Linked DNA regions of Homo sapiens: region 2 is linked to region 1. Evidence: fine-mapped expression QTL. A gene starts in region 1. The other region holds a variant in brackets. All regions are shown on one strand. Distances are between the middles of the regions. Region 1 holds the start of SKI (SKI proto-oncogene). Region 2 overlaps SKI (SKI proto-oncogene).

Region 1 (12,181 bases):
ACATAGTGAGATCTCATCTCTATAAATAAAAAATTAAATAAAAGGCCAGGCACAGTGGCTCACGCCTGTAATCTCAGCACTTTGGAAGGCCAAGGCGGGCGGATCACCTGAGGTCAGGAGTTTGAGACCAGCCTGGCCAACATGGTGAAACCCCGTCTCTACTAAAAATACAAAAATTAGCCTGGTGTGATGGCGCATGTCTGTAATCCCAGCTACTCGGGAGGCTGAGGCATGAGAATCACTTGAATGCAGGAGGCTGAGGCTGCAGTGAGCCGAGATCGTGCCATTGCACTCTAGCCTGGATGACAAAGCGAAGACTCTGTCTCAAAAATAAAGTAATAAAATAAAATAAAGTAAAATAAAAATCTTTGTCTCAGGGCCTATGTTTGGGGGAATCCAAAGTAAGACAAAGGTCTTTCTAAAATTTCTACTGGCCGGGCACGGTGGCATAGCCTGTAATCCCAGCACTTTGGGAGGCTGAGGCAGGTGGACCACCTGAGGTCAGGAGTTCAAGACCAGCCTGGCCAACATAGTGAAACCCTGTCTCTACTAAAAATACAAAATATTAGCTGGGCATGGTGGCAGGCGCCTGTAATCCCAGTTACTCGGGAGGCTGAGGCAGGAGAATCGCTTGAACCTGGGAGATGGACGTTGCAGTGAGCTGAGATCGCACCATTGCACTCCAACCTGGGCAACAAGAGCGAAACTTCATCTCAAACAAAAACAAAAACAAAACAAAATTATACGAAGCTGATGTTACTTGAGCAATTTTTATTTTCACATTTGAAGGTTTCTTTCCCAGTAACTGAGCATGTTTTTGCCAATGGCAGTCTATGCCTGGCTGCTACAAGGCCTTCCTTCTGCTTCCTGAGGAGGAGAGAGTGGGTGGCAGCAGGGCAGGGCAAGGCAGGGTGGAGCAGAGCTGGTCTGCGATGCATTTCCCCACCAAGGTTTCCAAGTTCCCCCAAAGCTTGGGGTACCCCTTGCTTTGCCAGTGTCTTCCTCTTTCTGGTCCTGGGGCGCCATCCAACTCATCTCCACACTGCTGGCTCCTTAAGGTGGGGGTCTCAACTCCAAGGCCAGCCTCCCAGGAGGCCCTCCCTGCCTACAGCCAGCCCCAGCCACTCCGCGCCTTTTGGGGATCTGAAAGATCTCGCTCCCGTACTAGCAGGTTTGTTGATTGACTGTTGTCTCTCACACCAGAATGGAACCACACGGGGTACAACCTGGTCTCCTTACCCTGATCCCAGTGTCTACAGTGGTAGGAGCTCATCGAACAAGGGGACAAACTCATGACTAGCTGACCAAGCCTGTCACCGTGGTAGGGGCCAGGGAGAAAGCTGGGAGGTCCCTGCCTTTGCCCGCATGCCAGGGCTTCTCTGGGCAGGCACCACGTCCATCCCACCCTACTCCGCGCTGTGGCTGTGCCTGCAGCCTTAACCCGCGGCCTGCCAGTATGGTGGCCCGCGTGGGCGACTGGCCTGGGCAGCTGCTGGGCGGGGCTGGAGGGTGGAAGGCCAGCAGGCGGGAGACACCCCCCACCCTCTTCCCTGCCAAGCTCAGGAAGAAAAGTGGACCCTGGTGGCTCCCTCTAGGCGTGGCTGCTCTGACCCTTGGTGGGGTGGGTGCCTTCCTCTGGAAGCTCTGACATATTGGGGGAAGGAAGTCTCAAGAGTCCACAAAGGTGGAGGTAGCTTCAGAGACCAACTGGAGGCCCTCACCTGTCCCCGCACCTTCACTCCATGGCACACCTATGGCTACTTCCCAGGGGTCCGCACTCTGGACAAAGTGTTGGTCCCTGGCTAGGACCCTGCAAAGCCAGAGGCACAGAAGGAAGCAGAGGCTCTGGGTGGGCACTGCCCATGCTAGGGGCCCTGCACAGAGCCCCTGGTCCACCAGAGGAGCCAGAGGAATTCTCTGCTTGATTGGAGACACTTCCCAGCAGGCCTGGCTGCAACCACCTTCTCTGAGTTACAATTTGACTGAGTTGTATGGAATTCAAATCCAGATGGAAGGAAGTGACAACGTCAAGTGCAACACTAGCTGTGTTTTGTCCAAAACGTGGGCCAACGAAACTATCTCCAGGAAAACAAATAAGTCCCTTTTCTATTTTTTTTTTTTTTTTTTTTGAGACAGAGTCTCACTCCATCGCCCAGGCTGGAGTGCAGTGGTGCAGTCTCAGCTCACTGCAATCTCCACCTGCCAGGTTCAAGCGATTCTCCTGCCTCAGCCTCCCGAGTAGCTGGGATTACAGGCATGTGCCACCATGCCCGGCTGATTTTTGTATATTTAGTAGAGAGGGGGTTTCACCATGTTGGCCAGGCTGGTCTCCAACTCCTGATCTCAAATAATCCACCCGCCTCAGCCTCTCAAAGTGGTGGGATTACAGGCGTGAGCCCCTGCGTCTGGACTGAATATCCTTTTTTTTTTTTTAGACGGAGTCTCGCTCTGTCGCCCAGGCTGGGGTGCAGTGGCGCAGTCTCGGCTCACTGCAAGCTCCGCCTCCCAGGTTCACGCCATTCTCCTGCCTCAGCCTCCTGAGTAGCTGGGACTACAGGCGCCCACCACCACGCCCAGCTAATTTTTTGCATTTTTAGTGGAGACGGGGTTTCACCGTTAGCCAGGATGGTCTCGATCTCCTGACCTCGTGATCCGCCTGCCTCGGCCTCCCAAAGTGCTGGGATTACAGGCATGAGCCACTGAGGCTGACCCTTTTTTTTTTTTTGAGACAGGGTCTGTCTCAAAAAAAGGGTGTGTCCCTATCACCCAGGATGGAGTGCAGAGGCTCAAGCACGGCTCCCCGCAGCCCCAACCTTCTGGGCTCAAGCAATCTTCCCACCTCAGCTTCTCAAGTAGCTGAGACCACAGGTGCAGGCCACCATGCCCGGCTAATTAAAAAAAAAAATTATTTTTTGTAGACAGGGTCTCACTATATCGCCCAGGCTAGTCTTGAACTCCTGGGCTCAAGCGATGCGCCTGCCTTATCTTCCCAAAGTGCTGGGATTACAGGCGTGAGCCACCTTGCCGGGTTAAATATCACTTTTAAGGAAATGATCTTCTTACCCAGCTTTCTGGTGTGTGAACACACAGAGAAAGCCTGGCCTCCAATTGTGGGGGCCAACGGAGTGAATGGGAAGAGTCGGGGGACAGTGTGGAGTGTGAGGACAAGGAGACAACCCCCAAGGCAGCGGAGAGAGGGAGTATGGAGCCGCCCTGGGGTCACCTACAGGTAGGTCCTGGCTGCCTCTCTAGACACCTGCCCTGCCGCAGGTCCGGCCAAGACCTGCACAGGGACTCCGGGCCGGCTCCCCCAGGATAGGAACTGCGCCCAGGAGTGCTGGTTTGAGGCAGGTTCCAGCCTCCACTGGGGAAGTGAGGGGCAGGAGGTCCCAGCTGAAGGTCACTCAGGTTGCAGCGGCGTGGCCCTCTCGCCTCCGCCCAGCACCCAGGCCAGCTTGGGCACCCCCGGCCCGTGGGGCATGTCCCTCCGCCTCAGGCGAGCACAGACCGAGCCCTGCCCCTCCCCAAACACACCATTGCGTCCCTGCGCCCGCAGGCCTCGCTGGAAGCTGCCTCCCCTGGAGACCACCCGGCCGACTGTCCAACTTCGGGGCCCCGGGCTTCCCGCTCCCCGCCCTGCCAAGGCTTGAGTCTCTCCCACTGCGTGGCCAGGCGTGGAGGGCCGGCCGATCCGACCCCGAAAGACGTCTCAGCGCTCCACGGCCCCGGGGCGGAGGTCAGGGGTCTCGCCGGCCCGAACGCCGGGCCCCGCGGGGCCGAAGTCCTGATAAGCCACCTGGCAGGAGTGGCTGGCAGACCGGCTGCGTCTGGGGCACCGGGCGCCGCCCCTCCCAGGCCCGAAGCCCCCGGCCCGCGCAGCAGGGACACTCCGCCAGGGGCCGGCGGGCGGGGCGGGGCCGGCGCGGCCGGGAGCCGCGGACACTCGGCCACCGAGCCACCGGCCACGGCGCAGCGGGGGCCGCCGGGCTGCGCCGCCAGGGTCACGCGACGCGGTGCCCGTCTCGGCGCAGGGTCCCTGGGCGTGGCCGCTGTCCCCCTCGTGTGTGGGACCCCAGGTCACCGTGTGGCGTCCCGGTAGTGTGTGGGACCCCAGAGGCGTCCGGGGCCTCCCCGCTGTGTGGTGTCCCACCCTGGGAGAACCCCGGGTGCGTGGCGTGGCCCCCCGGCCGCCCCCAGCTGGTTTGCGGTCGTGGCGGGGGCCTGTGGGTTTCTGGGCCCCGACGGCGGCGAGACGGGCGCCTTCCCAGCGGCGCAGGAAGCGGCCTCGGCCGGAAGGGGGGCCCCGGGCGCCACCGCCGCCTCCGCCTCCGCCCGCGCCCAGCGGCCCTCGGCGGGCGGGGCCGAGCGGGGCCGAGCGGAGTCGAGCATGGCCGAGCGTAGCCGAGTCCCGGCCGAGCGGAGCCGAGTCATGGCAGGGCGGGTCCGAGCGTGGCCGAGTCCCGGGCGAGCGGAGCCGAGCGCGGCCGAGTCCGGGCGGGGAGCGCGCGTTCCTGGAAGAGCCCGGCTGGGGAGCGGGTCACATTCTTGGCCAGCGCTAGGGCTGAGGCGGACGCACGGCAACAAACAGCGCGGGGGGCGGGGCCGGCGCGGGGCGGAGCGGGCGGCGCGGGGCGGGGCGGCGCGGCGGCGGCGTGAGCTCAGCGCCGGGCGCTCAGTCCGAGCCGGAGCGAGCCGCCGGGAGGATGTGCGCCGAGCGCCCCGAGCCCCGCGCCGCCGCCGCGCTCTGAGGGCCGCGGGCGAGAGGCGCCTCCGCCGCCCCGGAAGCCGGGCGGGCGGGCCGCGGAGCCGGCGGGCGGGCGGGCCGGGGGCCGGCGGCGGGCGCGACGCGGCCGGCCAGCGCCGCCGGGACGAGCCGGGCGGGCGCCTCGCGGTGGGAGGAGCGGGGCGGCGGCGGCGCGCCGCGCGAGGACGGCCCGGCGGGCCCCGCGCCCGCGCCCCCGCTCCTCCCGGGCCCCTCGGCCTCGGCCGCCGCGGCGATTCGCGCCTCGCGGCGCCGGCACCTGCCCGCGCGCCCCCCGCGAGCCCCGGGCCCGCGAGCGTTGGCGTTGGCGTTGGCGGCGCGCGCCGGGGCATGCCCCGCGCCTAGAGCCCGGGGGGCGCGCGGGGGACGCGCGGGGGGCCCGGGCGGCGGCGGGCGCGGCGCGGGGCGCGTGGATGTGGCGCCGGGCCCGGGCGGCGGCGGGCTCCAGCGGCGGGACCCCTTCGCCCCGCCCGCCTTCCCCTTCGCGCCCCCGGGCGAGGCCGCGGCCGTGATCGGCCGTGAGCCGGCGGCGGGGGGCGGCCGGGGTCGGGGCCGCGGGCGCCGCCGGGGCGCGCGGGGCGGCGGCGGGGGCCGGGGGGGCCCGGGCGCGCGGGAGCGGGAGCGGCCGGGGGAGCCGGAGCGCACCATGGAGGCGGCGGCAGGCGGCCGCGGCTGTTTCCAGCCGCACCCGGGGCTGCAGAAGACGCTGGAGCAGTTCCACCTGAGCTCCATGAGCTCGCTGGGCGGCCCGGCCGCTTTCTCGGCGCGCTGGGCGCAGGAGGCCTACAAGAAGGAGAGCGCCAAGGAGGCGGGCGCGGCCGCGGTGCCGGCGCCGGTGCCCGCAGCCACCGAGCCGCCGCCCGTGCTGCACCTGCCCGCCATCCAGCCGCCGCCGCCCGTGCTGCCCGGGCCCTTCTTCATGCCGTCCGACCGCTCCACCGAGCGCTGCGAGACCGTACTGGAAGGCGAGACCATCTCGTGCTTCGTGGTGGGAGGCGAGAAGCGCCTGTGTCTGCCGCAGATTCTCAACTCGGTGCTGCGCGACTTCTCGCTGCAGCAGATCAACGCGGTGTGCGACGAGCTCCACATCTACTGCTCGCGCTGCACGGCCGACCAGCTGGAGATCCTCAAAGTCATGGGCATCCTGCCCTTCTCGGCGCCCTCGTGCGGGCTCATCACCAAGACGGACGCCGAGCGCCTGTGCAACGCGCTGCTCTACGGCGGCGCCTACCCGCCGCCCTGCAAGAAGGAGCTGGCCGCCAGCCTGGCGCTGGGCCTGGAGCTCAGCGAGCGCAGCGTCCGCGTGTACCACGAGTGCTTCGGCAAGTGTAAGGGGCTGCTGGTGCCCGAGCTCTACAGCAGCCCGAGCGCCGCCTGCATCCAGTGCCTGGACTGCCGCCTCATGTACCCGCCGCACAAGTTCGTGGTGCACTCGCACAAGGCCCTGGAGAACCGGACCTGCCACTGGGGCTTCGACTCGGCCAACTGGCGGGCCTACATCCTGCTGAGCCAGGATTACACGGGCAAGGAGGAGCAGGCGCGCCTCGGCCGCTGCCTGGACGACGTGAAGGAGAAATTCGACTATGGCAACAAGTACAAGCGGCGGGTGCCCCGGGTGAGTGGCCCCAGGCCTGGGAGCTGGGGAGGATGCGCTTGGGGTGGGGGCCCCTTCTGGACTACAGGCTCTGGTCTCCGAAGGCTGGGACCTGTGCTTCTGCCGTGCCCCATGTCTCCAGTCTTCGCTTTGTTTTAGGGAAATTCAGAGTGTTCCGACTGGCAGGGCCAGAGAGTTTGGTAGGAAGGCCCTCCTGCCCGTTCCCCAGGACGAGCCTGGAGTGCGGGCTGTGGCGGTGGGGTGGGGGGCCAGGCCTGGTGTGTGGGGAAGGCCCGCAGGCCCACAGGCATTGCCCAGATAGGAAGGCACAGGCCTCATGCTCCCGAGAAAGCGGCCTGCCCCAGGTCAGGGAAGTTAGGTCCAGCTGGGCCACGGCCCGGATGCCTCAGGCCCAGGTCTTTCTTGGGGTTGGGGTGAAGGTGGCTGTCCTCGCCCCGAAGGCACCCAGCCTCGAAGACGGAGGGCTGCCTGCCTTTGGGCCCCAGGAGACAGAGCTTGGGTGAGGCGAGGCCTGGTTTTGTTACTGGCTCCCGCTCCCTGTTTGGTGCCTTGAAGTTTTGGGACACAGACACAAAATGAAGCCAGGTGTCCAGGCTTCAGTGGCAGGGGCCCGAGACTTGGCGGCTCCAGCACTGTGCTGGTTGGTCTCCCTGGGCCTGCCAGGGACCAAATCCCAGAGTCCGCCGTGTGGGGTGAGGGCCATTTGGCACCCGGCTGAGGGGCCTGGTCAGCAGGCTCCTGGGCCCGCGTGCTGGAGTTACTGGCGGCCTGCGATTTGCTTTGGACTCACCCATTTCCTTCTCTCCCTCTGAAACGCAGAGGGGTGCGCCGGAGAGGGAGGCTGCTGGCCTGGCTTTGTTGTTTGCCAGTTGGAGGATCTATGGGATCCGGCATGGGCAGCTCCCAGGCCACGAGGTGCCGAAATTACTCAGTGGGGTCCTCAGGAACTTTCCGTTGCGTACCTCCCCAAGTATTTGTAACTTTTCTTTTAAATATCCAGGCTTATTAAATTGCACACACAGAATGCTGCATTGGCTCAGCTATTCTTGGGAGGCCTAATTAATTCAGCTATTGCATCAAACTTTTTTTTTCTAAATCTGTGAATAGATGCTCCAGCCCGGTTTTCTCTGGGCGCCCCTCCAGCAGAGTGTCAGATCGTGGGGAGGAGGGGCTGTGGATGGAAGCGAGGGACTGTCGCCTCTGCTCGGAGGGGGCTGCGGAGGGTGCATGTGTGTGTGCATGTGTGTGTTTGTGTGTGCGCGCTTCTGACCCTGCCAGGCCAGGGCTCAGGTGGCAGCCGCCTGCAGACCTGTGGGCTGGGGAAGGATGCTCGTGGCAGAGCTGCAGACAGACGTAGCAGGCTGGGGCCCTTCGTGTCACACGGGGAGTTGGTTGGGGTGGGCCCGATGGCGCTCCCTGTGGGCTGGGGCCTTTCTTTTTGGGGTGGCCGCACCCTCGTCAGTGCCTGTGGCTGGAGGAAGCCACATGTCGGGGGGGATTGTGGGCTCGTGCAGGCTGCGTAGTGGGTCACCTGTGGCCAAGGCCTGAGCTGCTGGGACACGCTCACGTCACTGTCTTCAGAGCTGATGGCAGAGGATCTCGGTTGAGCAGGGTGTGTCTGCGTTTGTTTTTGTCCGACTGTGGGTCATGTGTGTGCTTGTGGTCTTTCTGTCTTCCTGGGCTTTGCTGGGGGCCCATTGGAGTGGCCAGTGGGGCCTCGTTGTCACAGCTGACACAGAGCAGGGCCCAGGCCACCCGGCTTCTCTCTCCCTGTGGTTGTGAGCGCCGGGGTCCTTGGGCCGCCATAGAGACAGGCCAGACAGGCTCTGGTCATCTCAGCGGATGCCTCCGAGCCGCCTTTCCCTTTTGAAGTCCCCAGCACTGCTCTGAAATTTCATTTACCGATTAAAAAGCAATTCCCAGGCCATACTGACGACGTGCACGGTGTGAGTGACTGCGTCCTCTAGGCCTGAGTGGCAGCCACACAGCCTGGCCCTGGCAGTGGTGTCCTCCGCCTGGCTCCCTGAATGTTCACCAGCTCCTGCGGGTTTTCCTCTCCTCATGCTCCTGGGGGTGGGGCACCCATCCTGCCCGTGTTGCCTCCTGCTCTATGTTCTTGACGTGGGATGGCGGCCAGGGACTCTGCCCTCGCTCAGTGCCTGCCCTTTAGGCTCTGTGACTGTGCACTTGGGAGTTCTGGGCTTCAGGGTCCCCTTAAGTCTCCTCAGGACAGCCGTGTGCGTGTCTCTGTGTGCACAGGAGCGACACATGAGAAGGGAGTGTGGTCTCAGGGTGGGCGTGGACCCACAGTGCCCAGACCCTACTTGTCCTAGAAGGAGTGGCCTGGGAGGCCCCGCCTCCGCCCTCACTGGCCGCCGTTGGCTCCTCCCACTCGTGTCTTGACAGCTTATTCTCGGGATATGTTTTGATTTCTTCACTTCCTTTGTAGCTTATTTTAATATTTTTGATCTGCCGAAGATGAGGGCAGAACAAAGAATGTACTGGAACTCTCTTTGCAGGGCTGCTGCTCCCAGCAGGCCTTCGGGCTCTGCGGAGCCGGAGGGGGCTGAATTGCCTTCCGGGTGTTTGTGGCCAGGCCAGGGTCGGGTCTCCTGCCTGAGTGGGCTGGGTCAGCGCCACTCTCCTACCCATGGTGGGAGGTGGGAGAGGGCGGAGATGTTCCCGGGTCCCAAACCAAGTGGGAGGCAGGGCTGCAGCTTTCTCCTTGGAAGCCTCCTGTGACAGCGGCTGTGCCTGAGCCTCTGGCCTGTCGGCAGTGCAGTGGCAGCATGAGGGGCAGACAGTCTTCCTCCAGATGCCCCCTCATGTCACGGGGTTACAGAGGAAGCCTCCGCTTCTGTCCAGTGGCTGTCGGGCCCGGCCAGCTTCCTGCTGCTGTATCTTGGAAGACCATGTGGGCTGCATGGGTGCTTGGCGAGTCTCCTCTTAGGGACCCTGGGGCTGCTATCCTTGACAGGGGACCTTGTCTCACCTCCCCACTCGGTCCCACACTGGCTTTGTGACCTTGGACGAGTTGCTTAACCTCTCTGCCTCAGTGTAAACTGGGGACTACTGTTTATTGATCTTGGACTTTATGTTTTGAGTGGTACAGGTGGGGCACAGATGGGTCATTGTGCTGCTGGGAGCACTTAGCCAAGACTGGAGCCTCTGAGCCTTCCCCACTCCCACCCCTCTTTCTTCTTTCCGGTCGGCTCGCCTCCTTCCTCGGGTTCTCTGATAGCTGTAGGACTCCATTGGACTACATTTTTTTGTCAGTATAGACAGCTGTCAGAGACGGAGACAAAATGTGGCAGTTGGAGCTGCCGCTTGGCCTGCTGCCTGGGACGCGGCCCCTTGTCCCGCAGAACGTCAGCCAAGCGCTTTCCGTGCAGGCTGATAACAGGGTGGTGCCGTGCTTCCCTTGGGCCGTGGCAGGATCCTGCTCCAAGGGGGGGTCCTGCTCCGAGGGGGCCGGGGTTTCTGTTCCAACAGGGCTGGTGGGGGGGGTCCTGTTCCCAGAGGTCCGGGATCCTGTTCTGAGGGGGCCAGGGTCCTGTTCTGGGCCGGGGGTCCTGCTCCGAGGGGGCCGGGCGTCCTGTTCCTAGGGGCGGTGGGCTGCCTGTGTGAGAGCTGTTCTTCACCTGCCACGTGCAGTCTGGGCATTCTGGTGACTGGAGAATTTGGGTTGTGTTACAGTGTTGTTGCTCTGTCCTGCAGATGCCTGAATTCCCAGGGGTCTTGCAGGTCCCCTTGCCCTTGCGCTGTGTGGGCTGGCGTGGGTCTCAGTGGGCTGTGGGTTGAGGGTCGCTTGGTTGGGAAGCTCTGCGCGCTTCCCAGTGGAGGGTCCGCGACGGGGGTTTTCTGATCCCTCATGCTGGCTTTTGACCCGTGTCACTGCAAGGCTGCCCCTGGCCCCAGGCAGCGTTTCTTCAGGCAGGTGCCCAGCCAGGTGGTCGGGCTTGAGACCTTTGAGTCTCGAGGTCTGTTCTGGGGAATGACTGAGCTTGTGGAGGCCAGGAAGGGGTTGCTGGGCTTGGAGAGCCTCTGGGGAGGAGTTGTGTTTTGCTCTTTGCTGTTTTAAGCTGAAATGATCACAGGAAGGGACAGCATCAAGAGTTTCTTTCTGGGACACCCCTCACTCAGCTCAGCGGCCGTGTGTGGGTTTGGGGCTGTGCTCTCCCAGACACCCTCAGGTCCGGGGAGCACTTCGGGGGCTATCTGTCCCTTTGTCCACCAGCTTCCTTTGGAAAAAGTGTTTGCTGCAAGTGTTTTTCTCCAGCTTTTCGTGGGGTTCCCTGTAGTCTTGGGCCATGCTCTGGGGTCAGGCTCCCGGCAGGCCCTGGTCCCCGTGCAGAAGGCCAGGGTCTGCGGGTTTGGGCTGGTCTGCCCCCCAGGTGAGGGTTCCGGAAAGACGGCCGGCTGCTGAGTCTTCTCAAGCAGGGGAAACAGCAGCTCGAGAGTGGTTCTTGACCTCTGCCCACCCCAGCTGGCTGTGCACGGACTGGGGAGGGCATGGGCAGCTGCCCCCAGGTGGCTTCTGCAGGGAGCAGAGCTTAGTGGTCATTTTCCCGGCATGGTCTGTCATCCGTCTGTCTGGGACCCCTCTGGGAGCTGGGCTGGGTCCCTCGCCTTCTGGGGCAGCAGGGTCACGGTGGGGGGGCTAGTCCTCTCTTTCAGCATCTTGTTTCTCAGCCGTCCCTGCGGCTATTTGTGCAATGTCTGTCTGTCTGAGTCTCCGGGTGAGGGCAGACAGGATATGGTGCGAGGAAGTCTGGGGTAAGTGTGAGCCGAACCCCGCCCTGGAGTCTCTCGGGGTTGTGGGGCCACAGCCCCAGCTTAGGTTAGGCCTTCACTGCTGCTGGCAGGGCCTCCAGAGAGAAGGCGGTGGTTCCGGGGCCTGGGCCCTGACTGTCTGGCAGGAGGTGTCCACGCCGGCGGCCCGGCTCTCTGTGGCAATAATGTGTCTCTTTCTAAGGATTGCGAAAGTTGAGGGAGGATTTCTCCACTGGAAGAATTATGCAAGCTTCAACTGAAATGTTTTTAAAAAGTTTCTTTGTTTTGAGTCAAAATACAGAAGGTGAATTATTTCCCTAATATCTGGGAGAGCTGGAAAAGAAGGCCCCTGTCCTTATTCTTCAGGGCTCTTCCCCTCCTGAGCAGTGGTCACCAGGCCAGGGTGTCATGGAGGGGGGGCTGCCTGGGGACCAGCTCTTTACACCTGGCCTCCAGAGCGGGTGGTAGGGCGGCTCCTTCCTGCCCTGCCCTGGCTGTCACCCTCGTGGTCTGGAGCAGGGTTTTTTTTTGTTGTTATTTTTTTTTTTTTTTGAGACAGGGTCTGTTTCTGTTGCCCAGGCTGGAGTGCAGTGGTGCGATCTTGGCTCACTGCAGCCTCCGTCTCCTGGGTTCAAGCGATTCTCCTGCCCCAGCCTCCTGGTAGCTGGGATTACAGATGTGTGCCACCACACCCAAGTAATTTTTTTGTATTTTTAGTAGAGATGGGGTTTCACCATGTTGGCCAGCCTGGTCTCGAACTCCTGACCTCAAGTTATCTGCCCACCTTGGCCTCCCAGAGTGCTGGGATTACAGGCATAAGCCACTGTGCCTGGCCCCTGGAGTGGGTTCTGCCACGGAAGGCATCCCCGGGGTCTGCGGGCTGGAGGGGTCGCCCCCACTGTGCCACCTGTTCTCTCGAGGCCTGGTTGCCCTCTGCAGACCAGGTGCCATGCCAGGTGACCCTCAGGAAGCTCTGGCTCACCCCGGGGGCTGGGGGGCATGATAAGCGATAGCTCTTAGGTGCTGCTGCT
Region 2 (12,181 bases), 81 kb after region 1:
CTGGCTGCCCCATGCGCTCCTCTCTGCCTCCACCTCAGTGGGCCTGCCTGGGACCTTGGGGGTCCGTCTCCCAAAAGCTGCAGCCCTGGGTATGGTGAGCCCCTCAGTGTCCCCAGGCTGATGGACATCCCAGGAGGCCACTACATTTGGCTTGACCACAGCTTTCCCCATCAGGATCACACACCCTGCGTGGTGGCCCCACTGAGGAAGTAGCCATGTTTCTCTGGTATAAGGGAGGCCGGGCTATTTTTAGTGGCAGAAAGAGTTGGGAGCAGCTGCATGGAGACAGTTCCTTGCTCTGTGTGCTCCAGGAGTGGGTGTTCACGCGCTCCGCCAGCAAGACCTGGCGTCTGCAAAACACAGGCGTGAGGGGCGTGCTTACTAATGCCTGGTGTTCCAGAAGGCGGCTCCCGCCAGGCCTCCCGAGTAGGAAGGAGAGGGCTCGGCCCGCACAGACACACACACACCCACCTGCACACGCTGCTTCTCTGGGCTCTGCCTCACGGTTCTCACGCTGCAGCTCCGGTCTCGCGCCTCCTTTTACGTTGTTTAGGTTTCTTTCTGACATGACTGAGGGAAGTGCGGTTCACAGGCAGAGCTGCCTGGGGAGAGAGGTGTGCAGGCGGCCCGTTGTTCACCGGGCCCCGGCCTCGCTAAATTCACACCTCGGCGGCGTCTGGCAGCTTCCGCGGCGTGGGCTTTAGCACAACACAACCCCGTCGGCCCTCAGAGCTGCAGGGTTGCCGACGTGCCCTCCTGCGCGTGCCAGTCCCTCGCCCCAGCACGTCCCCCGCCACTGTTGTCCTTGATTCTGGTTGGAGGTGTGATTTCCCACATACATATTCATGTGGTGTGTTTGCAGCGTGGGGTGTGAGTCACACGGATATTTTAATGGGGAGAGTGGGGGGGCTTGCGGAGGCGCCGGGCGGATGGACGTGTCCATCTGGCTGCGTGGGGAGACCCGGGGCCCTCAGATGGTGCGATGTCTGAGGCTGCCCTCCTCACATTGATGGGAGCCAGGGCCTACTTGGCTTGCTGCCCCCAAGGGGAACGTGGCCCTAGATACCGGGGGAGGCCCCGCCGCAGCCTCAAGTGACTGACTCAGGCCCCCAGGTTTAGCACAGCTGCCACAGGCCTGGCGGAAACTCCGGATGGGGGTCTGAAAAGCCTTTGTGGGGTCGGGGCACCACACGGGTTGGGCTGATGGCGCGCTGGGGGCGGGGCTCCAGGGCACATTGTCAGATAGATGACCCCACGGGGTGGGCTGAGGACTGCTGGTCATGGTGAGGGGTGTGCTGGGACCGGCTGGGCAGTGACCCCGAGCCGCCTCCGGCCCCCAGGAGCTGGAGTTCCTACGCGTGGCCAAGAAGGAGAAGCTGCGGGAGGCCACGGAGGCCAAGCGTAACCTGCGGAAGGAGATCGAGCGTCTCCGCGCCGAGAACGAGAAGAAGATGAAAGAGGCCAACGAGTCACGGCTGCGCCTGAAGCGGGAGCTGGAGCAGGCGCGGCAGGCCCGGGTGTGCGACAAGGGCTGCGAGGCGGGCCGCCTGCGCGCCAAGTACTCGGCCCAGGTATGCGGGTGGGGAGACTGAGGCACGCAGCACGGTGGGCGTGGAGCCGCCGTGGGCCCCGGTGGCCAGTCCTGCCCAGCCGGAAAGGCCTTGGAGCAGAAGCCAGGCCCGGGACCACGTTCCGTGCGTGCCCCCCCGACGGGCACAGGGTGGGTGGTTGCTGGGCCCTGCGTCTCGTGAGCCTGTGTCCTAGCAGGTGGAGGAGGGGCCGGCACGCGGCACTGGGGAGGGACAGGGAGCGGCGCAGGAGCCTCGGGTGGGGGAAGCAGCGTCGGGCCGGGGCAGGGCAGCGAGCAGGCGCCGCTGACCACTCGGCTCCCTTTCAGATCGAAGACCTGCAGGTGAAGCTGCAGCACGCGGAGGCGGACCGGGAGCAGCTGCGGGCCGACCTGCTGCGGGAGCGCGAGGCCCGGGAGCACCTGGAGAAGGTGGTGAAGGAGCTGCAGGAACAGCTGTGGCCGCGGGCCCGCCCCGAGGCTGCGGGCAGCGAGGGCGCTGCGGAGCTGGAGCCGTAGATTCCGTGCCTGCCGCCGCAGCGCCGCCGACAACGCGGGTGCAGGGGGGCGCGGCTGGGCGGTGCAGCTCCGCCCGGCTCCGCCCCTGCAGCCCACACAGCACAACGTCTTACCGTGCCTATTACCAAGCGAGTGTTTGTAACCATGTAGTTTTGGAACCCACTGCAAAATTTTCTACTGGCCAAGTTCAAGTGAGTAAGCCGCGTCCCCCAACTACAGCTGGAGACGGGGCCAGCTCGGCGGCCTGCTGGTCCTCTGCTTGCTGGAACATTCTAACATTTACACTTTTGTTATAAGCTATTTAAAACCAGTAAGGAGACTTGAAATTCAGAAAATCAACACATTTTTAAATGACTAACTTCTAAAAGCCCCAACACATGACGCCATCTGAAGACCCGCAACGGAGTGGGGGTGGCGGCCGCCCCACCCTCCCCACCCGGGGAAGCCATCACAGCTCATCTGCCCGCGGCTGCGTGAGGACAGCAGGGGTTTTTCTTCAGAGTCTATTTTTTCAGCGACAAGGACCCAGGTCTTCCTGCTGCTGCCAGGGAGAGCAGGGACAGTGCCGCGTGCGAGATGAGCTCGAACACTGCCCGCCTTACTGCCGCCTACCCCGCCCGCCACGCCGCCGTCGATGCCAGCGCTGTCCCCACGGGTACCAGGAAGTGCAGAGCCGCACAGGAGCTGCCCCGGAGCTGAGGGGACGGTCTTCGGCTCCTCTGCACCCCGTGATTCTGCCCACGCTCCTCCACCACGAGGCACTGACCTGCGTCGGGTGGTGACCGTGGCTGGCGGTCACGCCCTCAGCCCCTCCGGGCACACGTGCCGCCTGACCGGGCGACCCTTTTCAGTTCGGCAAACGTCGCTCCCTTCATTTTGGGACTGAGGCTGCAGCATTGGAACAAAAGAGCATTATTTCAATTTTTCTTTCTTTTTTTTTGTTCGTTCATTTAAACGTATATTTAGAACTGCACTTTGTCCACAACCTTCCCTTCTCTTTCTATTCCCCAGTGAACTGAGGTTTTTACCGATTTATAGAGCAGTCAAATCCGAAGTGCTCGAGTGCTTAGAAACCCCCTCTGGTGCTTGGTTGAACAAGGGAATCACAAGAAAACGAAAATGCAAAAACTGAACTTCGGGGGTCGTTCTGTGCCTTCCAGCATCTTGTACAGCAAATCCTGACTCGTGTCTTTTTACCCCCAAGATATCTGTCTTCAGTAGCGACTGAATCTGCCACTCTCAGAATAAGTTCCTTGCATTTATTCCAAATAATCTCGTTTACTCTCACCTGTTTATGCAAATTGTATAAGGTTTCTTATGCCCAAGCTTGAAAAATGATTTCCCAGTAGACAAGAGGCGGCTACCTATCCTACAGTTACGGTATTTATTTACATAAGAAGATCTTACAGGAGTTCTTTGCTTGAATCCGTTCTAACACCCGCGGCAGCTGCACGCGCTCACAGAAGGTGGAGGTTACTTGCCCAGGTACAGACGACCTCGGGGCAGTGACGAGCAAAGACCAGAGACTGCTGAGCCCTCGCATCTGGGTGGCGGAATTGCCTGCGGGGTTTTGCCCTTGGTTTACTGAGGGGGGTCTTGGTTGCTGCTGAAGCCCCCCACCCCTTCTAAAGTGCAATGCAAAAGGGACATCATGTATATGCAGCGTTTGTTTGGAATTTTCTTTGCTTTTGTTTTCTTTGCGGTTGTTCTGTGTGCATGGATTCCACACCTCTGCCGTAGGTAGATCCGTCAGCGGGCATTATTACCGTGTCTTGTAAAGGGTCGGTTTTGTTATGCAACATGCAGAATGCTGTTTTTAGCCTTGTTTTACCAGAGTTGTTTTTTTTTTCAGTTATTTCTTCAAGGGAAACTAAATGATTTAGTTGGAGCAAAGCTTTAAGTGTGTTGGCGTGCTTCTGTGTGGCTGTCCTGTGTCGCCAGGTCGAAGATCACAGTGAGGTAGAGGCCCTGCCCCATCCCCAGGGCCGCCAGGCTTGCTCCGTTTGCTTTGAGTTTTTAGACCCCAGAGGGAGATGAGCTTTTCCAAGCTGTGTCTGGGCCAGAGCCTCTCCTTGCCCTTGCTCCATCCCGACGGTCACCGTTGGGTCCACGCCTCCACCGCCCCATCTTGCCCCAAACGGAAAGCGCTGTATCTGCAGTGGCAGCCCTTCCCCACTTCGGCTCTGGGAGGGTCCAGCCAGTGTCACCTGGGCCCACCCTTTCCTGCAGCTGCCAGGCCCGTGCGGTCA[G/C]TGGGACCCGGACGTGGGCAGGCGAGCTCGGGACCCTCCCAGGCAGTTCCCACAGCTCTTGCCTCGGCTCACCAGGGTCACTTCCACTGTCAGGGGCCTGAGGGGGCAGCTGTGGCTGCAGGGCTGCTCTGGACTGAGGGGTCCCAGGCCCCGAGGGGTGCACGCCTGGCTCCCCTTGGCACAGGTGCGAGTCCGTTTCTTTTCAGCAGAAGGGGGAAGAGGTGTCCGCTGTGTGGGCTGCTGACTCCTCTGTGTGTGAGGCCCTTCATCTAAGTGATTGTGTATTCAGTTTAATTCTCATTATATTTCTATACTGAAAGAAGATTTTTAACGAAGGGAAAAACAACAGCAATAACATTCATATCTCTGGAGCAGCTAACTCATACACGTAATGTCTGCTTTTCGTACAGAACTAGCCAATGTAAAAACAGTTCACCTGTAAATACTTTTTCCTTTTTCACCGTTGTATTATACATGTATATGCTGGGTCCTTTTTCAGAAACTCTTTTCTTACCTGAGAGTTGTCTTGTTTTCTGGGCTGTTTTTAACTGAGGAAAAAAAAAATGCTTTCCTGCCGGGGGGCAGGGGAGACGGAGAAACCCATGTGCGTTTCCCATGTGACCCCCTCCTCCCTGTGGGTCTGAGCCCCGGCCCCCCCCACCTCCTCCTCCCTGTGGGTCCGAACCCCGGCCCCCCCACCCCCTCCTCCCTGTGGGTCCGAACCCCGGCCCCCCCACCCCCTCCTCCCTGTGGGTCCGATCCCCGGCCCCCCCCACCCCCTCCTCCCTGTGGGTCCGAACCCCGGCCCCCCCCCCACCCCCTCCTCCCTGTGGGTCCGAACCCCGGCCCCCCCACCCCTCCCTCAGCCCACCAGGGTCCAGGGAGATGTTCGTTCTCGCTTTAAGTCAGGAGTCACAAATGACTTTTTTTTTTCAATTAAGGAAAAAGCTCCATCTCTACCTTTAACATCACCCAGACCCCCGCCCCTGCCCGTGCCCCACGCTGCTGCTAACGACAGTATGATGCTTACTCTGCTACTCGGAAACTATTTTTATGTAATTAATGTATGCTTTCTTGTTTATAAATGCCTGATTTAAAAAGAAAAGAGCTTGGCATATTTATCTATTTCGCTGTGTACCTGTTAGTCCTTCCCCGACCCCGAAACAGATGACATTGTACAATAAAGGACTTTGAGAGGACCGCGGGACAGCTGTGCGTGCGCCCACCACAGCCCCTCCCCAGACCGGCCACACACGGGCGGCTGGGACCCCCTCGCTTTCAGGCCATCGTGGGTGGGGGTGCTGTCACAGGTCAGATTGTGGGCCTCGGAGTCTCCGTCGACCCCGAGGGCACGTGGGGTCCAGGCGGCCGCCCTGGCACAACTGCCCTCTCACCTAGTCCCCGTCCCCTCTGAGCTGGGCAAGGCCACGGTTTCCTCTGCGATTCAGGGAGCTTGCAGTCCCTGCTTGTAGCACTGGATGTGGCTGGAGCCCTGGCTTGAGGCCACCGTGGCCTTGGGCCGGCTGGGAGGAAGCCCCACAGAGTGCAGTGCCAGGACAGAAGATGGGATGGGGCCTTCCCGGCTGGGCCTCCACGGGGGCCTCTGAGGCCGCACCTGCGGTTGGCCAAGGTCCAGCTCCCGCACGGACAGACCTGTCCCCAAGGGGTGGATCGCCAGCTCCCTGAGGAGCTCCTGGGTTACTTGCGGGGGAGAGGGGAGGTGGCATCAGAACCCTGGACCCCAGCGAGCTGCCCCGAGGGAGACACAGAGGTCCCTTCTCCCCACCTGACCTCACAGGGGGGCCTTCCCAGACCCCTGTTCTGGGGATTGGAGGTGCCATGCCGCATGCCAATTTCATGGAGGCACAGCCCCGGGTGGGCTCCCTGGGGTGCCAGGCCACCACCTCTCTAGGCTTCCTTAGGCCATCACATCCAGCATCTCCAGCCCATCCAGGCCCTCATAGGTCATCTGGGTTGTGGTCCGAGAAAGGCATGGGCTGGTAGGGGCTCCAGCCGGCCCCTCCCCCCAGCCTCCCGGCACAATTTCCAGGTCCCCATCTCTTCTCTCCACCCCTCGGGAAGTGCCCCCAAGCTTGGGGCTAGAGCAGACCTGGCCCTCCCCTCACTGCCACATAGGGGCTTCCTTCTTCCCTGCCCAGGGCCCCAAAGGGCTCATAGAGCCCCCACGGAGGGTACAGGGCGGCCTCTAGACCACACAGGCCTACCCCAGCAGGCCTCAAAACACCCACTCCACATGGGCCTGGCTTCTCCATCCAGGCTAGGCCCCTGGGTGTTGGGGGCAGTGGGCAGGGGCGTGGGCCGAGGGGAACATGGGCCACAGCAGGAGTGGGTGTGGACTGGTCCTGGGCACGTGCATGTTCTGGGGGGCAGAGGATGGGCGGCTCCAGAGTGCCGCTGGCAGGACCCTGAGACTGAGTCAGTTGTGAGCACAGAGGACCAGCCCGGGGTCCAGTGCAGTGGGGAGGAGTTGGGGAAGGGCTGGGCCGAGGTCCTGGGTGGGCCTCGAGGACCGTCCCTGTGGCCACATGGGCACTCTGCCTCGGAGCTGAGCACCGCAGGGCTTGATGACGGCCCTCCCGACCCTCCCGGAGACTCAAAGGCACTGCCTCCAGCAGCCACGTGGGGGCAGGGAGGGGCGGTGCTCTGGGCTCAGTTGTTCCCCAAGCTGCCCCAGGCTTCTCTTTGGTGTTTACCTTTGGGTATAAACTTAGAGCTTTAAAGGGCTCTGGCCACCTGCTGAGCTAGGCCAGCCGTCACCCAGGGTCAGAACCCTCTTCCCAAAGCTGTTCCGAAGGGATCCAGGGGTCTCCTGAGTGCTGGGGGAGAGGAGGCCTGGGTGGGAGAAGCTCCCTGCCTCCATGCCAGGGGAGGGCAGAGGTGGGGGGAGAGAGATGGCCCTCCCCACCCTACCTCTGCATCCTCAGGCTCAGGACTCCCAGCATTCACACCTGCCTGGGCCTCTGCAGGGACCACGGGTTAGCCCTCCAGCCTCAGCTCCCTGGAAGGGCAGCTCCCAGTACCCCTGTTCCTGGCAGTGCCTGTTCCCAAGCCCCCAAGAGCTGGGGTCTGGGGAAGATGAGCTCAGGGAAGGGGATGGGGGCTCCCCCACCTCCCTAGTTTCTGCCCCACCCTGTGCCCCACCCATTTCTGCCTCAGTCACCAACAGCTGTCCTTAGGTCTCAGCTGTGCTGGTCTCCCCCTCCTCCTGGAGCCACAGTCCTGCCAGCCTTCACCCACCAGCCTGTGGTCAAGGGGGCCGACAACGGCTGAGCAGCCTGACCTTGTCTGGGGAGGCAGCGGCCAGCACGTCCTAGGTGGGGAGTGGAGACTGCTGACCAGTTACTGCAGCCACTGGTTCAGCCCCGCGTGTCCGGCCCCAGCCCTAAGCCTAAGCAGGGACCCGGCTCCTCCCTCACTTCACCCCCAACCCGCCCTCCTGCCCCAGCGCAGTGCTCCAAGGGCATGGCCAGGGGCCCCCAAGCTGGACACCCCCTCATGGCTGCATGAGGGGCTCTACCCATTGCCCCAGCCCACAGGCCCAGACCCCGACCCCATCCTGGCCCAGGCCTGGCCACCCCCACGTCCCAGCACCTGCTTTGACTCCCCCACTTCCTTCTGGCCAGGAAGAGGCAGCCCCCACCCACTCTGTTCTCGTAGCCTCTGCACAGCTGCTGGTCCTGCTCCAGGCGACCCGGCCTCTGACCCCACGGAGCCTCCGCTGGAAGGAGGTGCGGAGCCCACAGGGACACCCCCAGGCCAGGGCCGCCTGCCCTCCAGAAATGATGGGGTCGTGACCCTGATGTGTTGGCCCCGGGGGGGTCCCGACCCTCCCCACAGAAACTGCCCTGTCTACTCCACCCACAGCGGACCCTGGGGAGGGGGTGAGGACAGAACATTTGGGGACTGGATGCCCGCCCAGCCCTGCCACCCCCCGGTCTCAGTGACGCACATGGCCATCTGTGCCTGGCCTGTGCCAGGTGGGTGGGGGCCTCAATGGCTGGGGCACCCAGCCCTGGAGCAGGTGGCCCCGCTGCGGGTGAGGACCGGCAGGGGCAGCCTGGCCAGCCTGGCTTGTCTTTGCAGTGTCCTGTGCTGGGCCAGGTGTCCAGCCGGGCTGGGAACGGACCTTTCTCTCCCATGGCCGGGCCTGGCAGCTCTTACTGGCAAGAAGTGCAGCCCAGGCTCGGCCTCCATGGCTCCTCCTGCAAAGGAGGCCTGTTCCAGAAACTTCCAGGGACAGGGAACCGTGGGGAGGTGGGGAGGTAGGGGCTGGAGGCAGGGGCTCCCTGGGTCAGCCCAGGCAGCAGTGTCTCCCAGTCTCCTGCCCCTCCCCGCAGCTGTCCCAAGGACACTCTTAGGTATAGGGGTGCCAAGTGCCCAGGCCCCGTGGAGATACAACTGGCTGGCTTGGAAGGGTGGGCTCCTGGCTGCCCAGCTCAGCCCAGAAACCAGGATTGGGTGCCATCCAGATCTAGAACGAGAGACCAGGGGTGTGGAGGGTCGAGGGCCGTCTAGAGGCCTTGGTGGGGGCCGGGCAGGCCACCAGCCCCGAACCCTGGAGGGTCCCGTGTACCCTGGCCAGTGCCAGCTGCTGCCCCCCTGGCCTGGCCCTGCCAGATTCTCCCTGACAGCCCTGTCCCCCTCTCTGCTGTCGGAACCTTCTGGCCCTTCCTGCAAGGTGGGCCTGGCCAGGCTGGGGTCTTGGTGGAGGGCAAGCAGGAACCAGGGACAGACGATGGAGCTCTGCGTGTCCTCCCTCATGGAGATGCCCCCAGCTGGGTGAAATGACCCTGGTCGGTGCTATGCCCAGGTTAGGCCAGGCTACCAGTTGCAGATGGACACCGCCCTGCGCCCTGCTGTGCCCACCCTGGGGCAGGAGCTGGGCAAGGTACTGTGTGCCCTGTGGTCCAGCCCCACTCTGCCCTGCCCCTGGTGGGGCCTGCACCCGAGGGACGTGATGCCCATGCCCCAGCTTCCTGTTTCTAAGGAAAAACAGTCCTAGGAAAAAGGCTGTAGCGTCGGAGGAGCTGCCCTCGCCAGGGCCTGGGGGGATTGTGGGTGGGGAGGCTGTCCCATTCTGTGATCCCAGGGATGCCAGGAGGGCCGTGGCTGGTGTGGCCGGCACTGGGTCAGGTTTAGGCCGGGGTCTCTCGGGTCTCGGTGTTGGCCCCTCCGTGTTTAGAATCCTCCCAGGCCAAACCAAGGCGGCCTCCAGGGTCACTCCTGCACAGGACAGTGGCCGGAACTCCGAAATGACCACCGACCTGCGCTGGCCGCTGAGGGTCCGACAGACCAAGGCTCTGGGCCCCCTACCCCATCCTGCGCCCCGTGCGCGAAGTCTGCGGGGTCACTGCTGCGCAGGACAGAAAACCCGCAGTGGGGCCCCGGCCTGTCCCCGGCCCTGGCGCTGTCCTGGCATCCGGGGAAATCCTGTTTCTGGCTCCAGGCCAGGGCCTGCCCCTCACCCTGGAGAGGCCCCGTCGGAGGCCGGCCTCGCGGGGGAAGGGCGGTGGCGGAGGAACTACCCAGGAATTCCAGCGCCGGCTCCGAAACCTTCCCAATCCCGCTCCTTCGCCCGGGCCGGAAGCCGCGCTGGGGGGGTGGGGAGGGGTGCACGTCCCGGGCCCCGCGCCGCGTCCTCAGGGCCGGGGCGGCCTCCCCGACGCCCGTTCCGTTCCCAGTCCGGGGGCACTGGGGGCCCCGAGTCAGGCGGAGCGCGCCGGGCCCCACTTCCCCACGCGGAGGGGCAGCCCCGCAGCCTCAGGCTCCCCCCCGCAGCCTCAGTTTCCCCCCCGCCCCCGCCGCCTCTTCCGCTACCCCACCCTCCCTGCCGTCCGGGGCGGCGCCCCCCAGATTCGCGGCCAGCGCTGGATTCCGGCGGGGTGGGGCGGGGGCTTCCGGCCCGGGGGCGGCTGGTCCGAGCAGCAGGCCCGGGCTGGGGGGCGGGACGGGAGGCCCTGGGAGCTTCCTGCAGCGTGGGGGCGGCTCCCGAGGTGGGAATTCCGCCCCCGAACCGGCGGGCTACGTGCGGGGGTCTCAGAGGCTGCGGCTCCTCCCGTCGGTGGGCGCGGCCGCCCCCAGAGGCCGCTGCGGGAAGCAGGGCGGCGGCAGGAAGCGCCCCCCCCGTTCCCCCTTCCCCCCCGTACCCCTCTTCCCCCGCTCGTCCCCCCTTCCCCACCCCAGGCCCCGCGGAGGCGGCGCGCGTTTCACGGGTTTCGCCGCCCGCGGCACGGTGGGGGCGGGGGCGGGGGCGGGGGCGGCGGTGCGACCCCCAGCGGTGGAAGCGGGAACTGCAGCTCGGCCGAGCTCGGGGTTGGGGGGTCCCTGCCAACCCTGCCCTCCCGGAAGGTCCCAGCCTGGCGGGTTCGGGTGCTTTTCTCTCTGGGGCGCGGCCTCCCTGTTCTGCTCAGTTGGGGGTCCGTTCCCGGGAAGAACCACCACACCCCCCATCCCGGCCCGCAGGCCCCAGCCGCCAAGTCGTTGCTGGGGAGGTGGGCGCAGGCCGCCCTCTCTCCGTGAGCCCACTCGCCACAACCCGCAGGGACCTGGGGGACTCGGTGGATCCAACCACAGGAGACCATGAGACACAGGCGGTCTCGCCGAGGCCTGCCGCTTAGAGCTGTCTCTCCTCCTCACGGGCCCCCTGGCTCCCTGCAGGCCTGGCCTCCTATCTCCCTCAGGCCATCAGCCCAGGGACCCCCAGCCCAGGCACCCCACCCATGCTCTGAGCTGTGGGCCTGAAACCCGCCCTCCTAGCAGGGAGCCTGGCTGCGCCCCAGGCCGCTTCTGCTTGGAGCTCCGTGGAAGGAAATGCCCTCAGGTTCCCAGGCACTGAGCCTCCCCTCCCGCTAACCCCATCAGGGGTATAGCAGCCCCGTGGTGCTCAGCCTGCCTCTCTCTGCCTGGGCAGGACCGTGGAGCCCATGCGTGTCCTCTCTCCTGTCCCCAGATGGAAGCCGGCAGGTGGGGCCCTAGCAGGGGACATGCTCGACGTGTGGGTGGATGAGGACCCAGTGGGGTCAGGTCTGGGGCAGCGGGACAGGGTCTCCAGGACGGGGCCTGGCTGCAGATAGGCCGGAGAACGGCTGCTGGTTCCCTGAGGCCACTGGGGAGCCAAGATGCAGTCCCCGAGGGGTTTCCAGGGAGCAGCCACTGGGCTGGGCAGCTGGGCGCAGGGGCAGAGAGAGCTGGGGCTGAGTCCTGGCCTGCCCCCTGGGGACTCCTGGGCTGTAAGGCAGGGGTGGGCAGGGCCTGGACCCTTGTTGGGGGGCCCTCCCTGGCTGTGGTCCACCTCAGGAGCCAAGGAGGCTGGGGGGCTGGTGTGGGCAGCTACCTCTGTTCCCCACGGGTCCTCAGGAAGGCGGCGCCACAGACTGAGGAGGCCCTGCTGGCCCTGGAGCTGTGTTCGGAGCCCCCACAGCCTGGCTCCTGGCTCTGGTTGCCGTGGGCGGGAGGTGGAAGTACAAGGAGAAGGAGTGTCCAGCATTTTCACGAGTGCCACCGCCAGAGGTCAAGCTGAGGACAAGAGGGCAGCCAGGCACCACCCTGGCCCCAGGCAGACTCCCCAGGGCTCGCTGAAGGGCCGGCAGCCCTGGGCCTGGCAGCTCCCCTTGCAAGCCCCAGCTGGGGGCTCTGTCATCCGGGAGGCCCTGGGCCTGACCTTCGCCGGCTGCCCCTGGGCCTGGAGGCAGGACACGAAGGGGCTGATGGGTCTGTGGTCAGCCCCGAGCGCACTTTGCTGAGCTGTGGTCTTGCTGAGCCAGCCCACAGGCCCAGCGACTCCTGGCTTACTCAGCCCAGGCCTGAGGCTCCCAGGGAAGGCCAG

The links.
Region 2: its variant is fine-mapped to the expression of SKI in whole blood (TOPMed, PIP above 0.99).

What each region holds. Positions count from the first base shown.
Region 1 is chr1:2,223,359-2,235,539 of GRCh38, forward strand. It overlaps SKI (SKI proto-oncogene), which reads left to right and starts at 4,961. Exons shown (of 7, transcript NM_003036.4): 1 at 4,961-6,377. The coding sequence starts at 5,409. RefSeq lists enhancers at 1,027-1,527, 2,882-3,702, 7,532-8,193, 7,840-7,889, 10,967-11,106 and 1 more and a silencer at 4,022-4,791.
Region 2 is chr1:2,304,680-2,316,860 of GRCh38, forward strand. It overlaps SKI (SKI proto-oncogene), which reads left to right. Exons shown (of 7, transcript NM_003036.4): 6 at 1,341-1,571; 7 at 1,898-5,534. The coding sequence ends at 2,086. LOC124903824 (a long non-coding RNA gene) reads left to right here and starts at 10,316. Exons shown (of 4, transcript XR_007065362.1): 1 at 10,316-10,349; 2 at 11,267-11,319; 3 at 11,713-12,181. RefSeq lists enhancers at 1,975-2,608, 8,495-9,148, 10,629-11,382 and silencers at 9,948-10,067, 10,158-10,317, 10,468-10,757. The variant G/C (reference allele first, on the strand shown) is at 4,336.